Linked DNA regions of Homo sapiens. Changing the gene in region 2 together with the main gene of any one other region gives a genetic interaction. Each region holds a gene or a part of one and is shown on either strand. Other genes may lie near its edges.

Evidence for each region.
Region 1: changes in ATF6 (region 2) and CSK are lethal when combined (synthetic lethality), as found in Homo sapiens cells (one large-scale study listed by BioGRID).

What each region holds. Positions count from the first base shown.
Region 1 is NC_000015.10:74,795,580-74,799,079, reverse strand, and holds part of CSK (tyrosine-protein kinase CSK), read right to left. Parts: intron 869-3,500; exon of another isoform or gene 848-868; 5' UTR 783-847; coding exon 768-782; intron 466-767; coding exon 352-465; intron 255-351; coding exon 142-254; intron 1-141. UniProt on the Homo sapiens protein: Non-receptor tyrosine-protein kinase that plays an important role in the regulation of cell growth, differentiation, migration and immune response.
Region 2 is NC_000001.11:161,793,820-161,797,319, reverse strand, and holds part of ATF6 (cyclic AMP-dependent transcription factor ATF-6 alpha), read right to left. Parts: intron 1-3,500.

The DNA.
Region 1 (3,500 bases), on a different chromosome or scaffold from region 2:
TCCCGCACCCGCACCCTGCACCTCCTCCTGAGGCCCTCCCCAACACCCAAGCCCCTCACTCTGGCCTCCCTGCTTGCTCCTGATGCTCCTTCAGGAGGACCAAGGCCCCTTCCCTCCCCAACCCCTCCTCGTGGTACTCACGGCATGAGGCTGAGTTTGGTACCCGCCTTCACGCCCTCCCGCTTCTGGACGTAGTTGGCTGGGATGATGCCCTCACGGCCCACCTTGTTTTTGGCTTTGTACCAGTTGGGGTCCTGGGGAGAGGGCAGCCCAGACATGCTCTCAGGCCCACCTCCCCCTGCAGAGGGAAGGCCCAGCAGTGGGATGGTGGGGTGGGCGTCACCTGATTACCTTGGTGACGGCCACAATGGTGAGCACGTCTCCTTTGCAGAAGGGCAGGTCCTGCTCGGCAGTGCCGTGGAAGTTGTACTTGGCAATACATTCTGTACCGGATGGCCAGGCGGCCTGCAAGGCAGGTGACACGTGGGCGGGTGCAGCCTGGGCCCCCTCCAGCCACCTGCTGGCGCACCCTCGTGGTCACAGCCTCTGAGCTGGCCTCTGTGAGCCTGGGTGAGGTGCTCTGCCCGGAGAACGAGCCCTGGGTCCCTTCCTGTTGAGACTCCCCCACTTCCCCAGGCCTGTACCTGACTGAGTGCTGGGAAAAAGGGGAGTGGGTTGATCTAAGCTGCATCCTCTCTCCTCTGCTAAGCACCCCGCTGGGGCTGGTGGGAATGCTTGCATGTCCCAGACCCTCACCCCTGTGGTACCTGTATTGCTGACATCTTCTCAGGAGCTCTGGCGTCCCCGAGTCACAGTAAAGCCAACCTGTCACTTGGTACCATTAGAGCTGTGGGGAAGAGCATGAAGACTGAGGAGGGGTGTGAAGAAATGCCCCCCAACTGCTGAGATCTGGCTCCTCACTGGGCATGAACAGGTGCCAAGAGTGTCCTGCGCTGGGATTTGACACATGGGCCATTCTCTCCAGTCCTGGCAGGCTGACGGTACTGGGTAGAGGAGCATGAGGGCTGAGGACCCCCAGGGGCAGAGGGAGCCACCAACCCTAAGGCCACAGGGGGCCTTCCAGGACTGATAGAAAGGAGCAAAGGGGGCTAGTGGGACAATGGACACCTGACCGTCAGCCCCAGGCCTGGTTCCAGCTACTGTTCTGTGGGGAAAGGGGCCCCGGAGCAGCTCTGAGAAGGGGCTATGTGATCTGAGAAAGTCCCTTATGCTCTGTGGGTCCTTGGGTCCTTCACCTGCAAAATCCCGCCCAGGTAGCATCTCTAAACATATACCAACCCCACTTCTAGGTACACACCGAGAGGACACAGGACATGTGTCTGCCTAGACAGGCACAGGAGGGCTACAAGTGGCATGCTTTGTAATAAACCTCAAACTGGGAGCTGCCCAGATGCCGATCCAGAGGAAAATGGATAAACAGTGGCATATTCACAAAAGGGACTACGTACAGCAGTAAACACCAACCATTAAATAAACTCCAACACAAACTCCAACCATTAAATAACACTGATGAATTTCTTTTCTTTTCTTTTTTTGAGATGGAGTCTGGCTCTGTCACCCAGGCTGGAGTGCAGTAGCACAATCTCGGCTCATTGCAACCTCCACCTCCTGAGTAGCTGGGATTACAGGCATGCACCACCACAACCAGCTAATTTTTGTATTTTCAGTAGAGATGGGGTTTCACCATGTTGGCCAGGCTGGTCTCGAACTCCTGACCTCAGGTGATCCACCCACCTCGGCCTCCCAAAATGCTGGGATTACAGGTGCCAGTCACCGTGCCTGGCCAATCCCGATAAATTTCAAAACATAATGATGGCTAGGCACAGTGGCTCACACCTGTAATCTCAGCACTTTGGGAAGCTGAGGCAGACAGATGGCTTAAACCCAGGAGGAGTTCAAGACCAGTCTCGGCAACATGGCGAAACCCGGTCTCTACTAAAGATACAAAAATTAGCCGGGGGTGGTACTGCGTGCTTGTACTCCCAGCTACTCAGGAGGCTGAGGTGGGAGGATCGCTTGAGCCTGGGGAGGTCAAGGCTACAGTGAGCCAAGGTCACACCACTGCACTCCAGCCTGGGCGACAGAGTGAGACCCTGCCTCTAAATGAATGAATAAATAAATAAATAAATAAAATGTTAACCAAGAAGCCAGACACAGGAAAGTACATATTATGTAATTCCATTTGAATAAAGTTCAAAATCTGGCCAAACTAATCCATGCTGTCAGGATAGCTGCTCTTGGGACAGGGAGACTGGAAGGAATGCAAGGGGACCTCTGGGGTTGGTTTTCAGACTGTCTGAGCCCAATCATGAAGTGGGTCCACTCTGTGACAATTCACTGAGCTGTACCATTGCGATCGGCACACTTTTTGGTGTATAGTGCACACTTGAACAACTCGGGTCTGAACTGCGCAGGTCCAGTTACACATGGATTTTTTCTTTTTCTTTTCTTTTTTTTTTTTTTTTGAGAAAGGGTCTCACTCTGTTGCCCAGGCAGGAGTGCAGTGACGTGATCATAGCTCACAGCAGCCTCAAACCCCTGGGTTCAGCCAATCCTCCTGCCTCAGCCTCCTAAGTAGCGATTACCACAGGCATGCGCCACCACACGTGGCTGGATGTTTTTCAGTAAGTTACACTGAGTGTGCCTGCCTTTTCTGCCTTCCTTTCCACCTCCTCCGCCTCCACCTCTGCCACCTCTGTGACGGCAAGACCAACTCTTCCTCTTCCTCCTCAGCCTACTCAATGTGAAGGATGAAGACCTTCATAATGATCCCCTTCGACTTAAAGAATAGTAGATATATTTCCTCTTCCTTATGATTTTCTTTCTTTTTTTTTTTGAGACAGCAAGACTCTGTCGCCCAGGCTGGAACGCAGTGGTGGGGTGACTCACGGCTTACTGCAACTACCTCCGCCTCCCAGGTTCAAGTGATTCTCATGCCTTGACCACCTGAGTAGCTGGGATCATAGGCGTGCGCCAACACAGCAGACCAATTTTTGTATTTTTAGTAGATACAGGGTTTCACCATATTGGCCATGCTGGTCTTGAACTCCTGGCCTCAAGTGATCCGCCTGCCCCAGCCTCCCAATGTGCTGAGATTACAGGTGTGAGCCACTGCACCCGGCCATATGATTTTCTTATTTTATTTTCACTAGCTTACTTTATTGTAAGAATACAGTATATAATATATATAACAAACAAAATGAGTGTCAATCAACTTTATCTACAAGGCTTTCTGACAACAATAGGCTATTAGTAGTTAAGTTTTTGAGGAGTCAAAAGTTAATATATGATTTTTTGACTGCAGGGAGGAGGTTGATGCCCTCAACCCCTGTGTTGTTCAAGGGTCAACCGTATATTTACTTCAATAAAGTTGACTCCCCAAAAAAGCTACCCTAGCCAACCCCATTCCCTGAGAGCAGCAACCCACCCGTCTGCACACACATACTTTGTAATCCCAGCCCAGAGCCCCCTTGGACCTG
Region 2 (3,500 bases):
TGGCTACAACTTCCAGCACTATGTTGAATATGAGTGGTGAGAGGGACATCCTTGTCTTGTTCTGGTTCTCAAAGGGAATGTACTTCCAGCTCTTGCCCACTCATTACAATGTTGGCTGTGGACTTGCTATAGATGGTTCTTATTATTTTGAGGTATGTTCCTTTGATGCCTAATTTGTTTTGAGGTGGCCTCCATCTTTTATGAAGTAAAAACATATAAAATGCAGAAATTACTCAGAAGCAGATATAAACATGCTTAGGCCAAATACGCAAATAAAAATTAGAAACACATAAAGTAAATAGCATATGACCAAGTGTTAGGTTTTAATAACAATAAGAAATTACAGTAAATCTGGCACTATGAAAATATATATTTATCATAATGTGAAAAAAAAAACCAAAAAACAAGAATTCCCAAGTGCTCAAGTCATAGCCAGAGCAATCAGGCAAAAGAAAGAAATAAAAGGCATCCAAATATGAAGAGAGGAAGTCAAACCATCTCTCACACAGATGATATAATTCTACACCTAGAAAACCCATAGTCTCTCCCCAAAGGCTCCTGAATATAAGGGCTCTCTTTTAATATAAAATAATATCCTGGTCACCCAAAACCATCAAGGTTGTCCTTTCAGCTTCTGTGTACTGAGAAAATACATGATGGAAAAAGGCTGCTAAGAATTTAGTGAAGATTTAAAATGAACTTGGAGTTTATTAGTCAGAAGTATAGCTATAAAAATTTGAAGAGCTGTACAAAGATATATGAAATAAATTATTTGGTCTACAGAAAATGCTTGCTTCAAGTATGGATTTGCAGATGCTTTGCAAAATGCCATAAAGCTACTACCCCCATCACCCACATCCCAGGGTCCACAATATACAGACTGAGAACCACTGACTTAAACCAATACTTTGAGAAGAGTATTATAGGAAGCCATGTTCTACATCCTCTGAGTTTAAAATTATGATTAAAAGATCCCTCCCCAAAATTAAACACTGTTCAGGGAACTTTGGGACTATTTTAAAGAACAGAAGAGGTGTAAATATAATGAATTAGGCAACTTATAAGAAAGAATCCTATTTCTAGCTACAGTTACAGATTTAAAGCCCTAGCAGATAACATGTACAGAGGGCTTTGTAATATTTCTTAAACTAATTAAGAAAAATAATCCAAATCTGTACTACCAATTGTGTAATTACCACTGTCTCCTTGCTGAGACGACCGCATCACACAAAGGAGATGGAAGAATACCAAGGCAAGGCCAAATGTGGCTTGAGTCCTACCAAGCCACTGCTGCTTCCTTTTTTTCCCATATTGTATCAAGCCTTTTCATCCCAGAGTACCCAACTATCCTCAAATTACCCAGCAGCTAAATCAGGGATACTCTAAATATTCTAGGCATGTTTGGGTTCAACACAGAATGAGGGGAAACAACTAAATTTCTATGACAATATGTTCAAGTGAAAGAACAAAAAACTCTCATGGTGACTTGGTAAATGCTGACCAGGCCACAAACTACAATGCAAAGAATTGTTTGGGGCCTTAAATAGCAGCTGAACATAGTTACTACTGTTCCTAGTGTGGAAACAGTTAAAAAGGACATTCCAAAGGCTGTTTATCCATTTTAGCATGCTCAAAATCCTCTCTGGCATTACATGCAAATCCCCCTTAACGGAACATGGCTGGATTCAATGCCATATATTTTTTTGACTATGTGTAACTCACTGATTTTGATAGTTCTTTCTTTTAAACTTTCTTCAAAGATTTTAAACTATGTATCAAACATTTATTGAATGCCTACTTTGTCTGAAACAGCATCGGTGTGTGACTTAGGGCAAATAATCTGTACTTAGCGTTCTCATCTAAAAAATGGAGATATCACAACCCATCACCATAAATCATAGAAACATACTGAAGTTTCAAATAATGTGTAAATATTATTTGAAATAAGATAATGCACTTAAGCACTTAGAAGAGTGTCTGGCACATAGTAAGAACTTAAATGCAATTATTATTATTATTAATCTCCTTTTCTATATAATAATAGCTTCCATAAGGGCACTGCATGAGTTATTAATTTATTAGTTATCACAGTGACTGTTATTTAACTGTTTATGTGAATTTAATCCCCCAATTAAAGTGTAGAATTCTTGAGAGCAAGGAATACATCTGTCATTTTTTTTTTAAGGCGATACAGTATAGTGATTATTCACATAGACTCCGAGCCAGACCACCTGGGCTCAAGTTCTGGCTCCACTTCTTATTAGCAGAGTGATCTGGGCAACATATTTTACCTCTGTCTCCCATTTCAATAATTTTCGCCATCATCTACCCAAAAAGCCCCAAGATAGAAAAACGGAAGTCATCCTAGACACCTTCCTCTCTATCGTTCAGCCTCCTTCTACACAATCCAATTACCAATCTCTAAGATTCTACACTTTTAACATCTCTACTCTTCATCCTGGTTCTCCACTTTCATTGATATTCCAGGCTTTCATTATCTCTCATCTACACTACTCAAAACAGTCTTAAAGGACATGGAGGACTGAGAAGTAGAAGTAGGCATAAGTTGTTGCTGGTTGGTAGAAAATGGTGAGCCAAAAAACTAGGAAAAACAAGAGAATTCAAAGGACAATGACAGATTAGTTGAGCTAGAAGAAGGGATTTATAGAAAAGAGTAATATTATAAAGTTCGAAAACTAAACTAGGAGGCCAGGCATGGTGGCTCACGCCTTAATCCCAGAGCTTTGGGAGATCAAGGTGGGTAGATCCCTTGAGCCCAAGAATTCGAGACCAGACTGAGCAATATAGTGAGATCCTGTCTCTATTAAAAACAAACAAACAACAATAACAAAAAAACAAAAAACTAAACTAGAGCCAAATTGTGAAGAGTTTTACATTCCAAGCTAGAGAATCTCAGTCTTAAACCTGTGGAAATTACCTCTTCTTTTTCAATGGTAACATATTTACTACTAGTATTAACATGATTAACTGTATAATGTCTTGCCCATACTTCCCTTCTTCCTCCCCATTCTCAAATAAATGAAAAACATACTTTAAATCTGTATGTTATTATAATAATACCACCTATTTAGATTGTACTATAAAAACAGACAAGGCACCAGGCGCGGTGGCTCACACCTGTAATCCCAGCACTTTGGGAGGCCGAGGCAGGCGATTACGAGGTCAAGAGATCAAGACCATCCTGGCCGACATGGTGAAACCCTGTCTCTACTAAAAATATAAAAATTAGCTGGGCATGGTGGCACGTGCCTGTAGTCCCAGCTACTCTGGAGGCTGAAGCAGGAGAATCACTTGAACCCAGGAGGTGGAAGTTGCAGTGAGCCAAGATCACACCACTGCACTCCAGCCTGGCAACACAGCGAGACTCTGTCTCAAATAAAAGAAAAAAAACAGGCAAGGTGCAGTTCCTCATATTAGCACATGCTCACAAAAAAATAACTATAGTCTTCAGATGACAGGAAAGTATTGAAGTTTCAAAT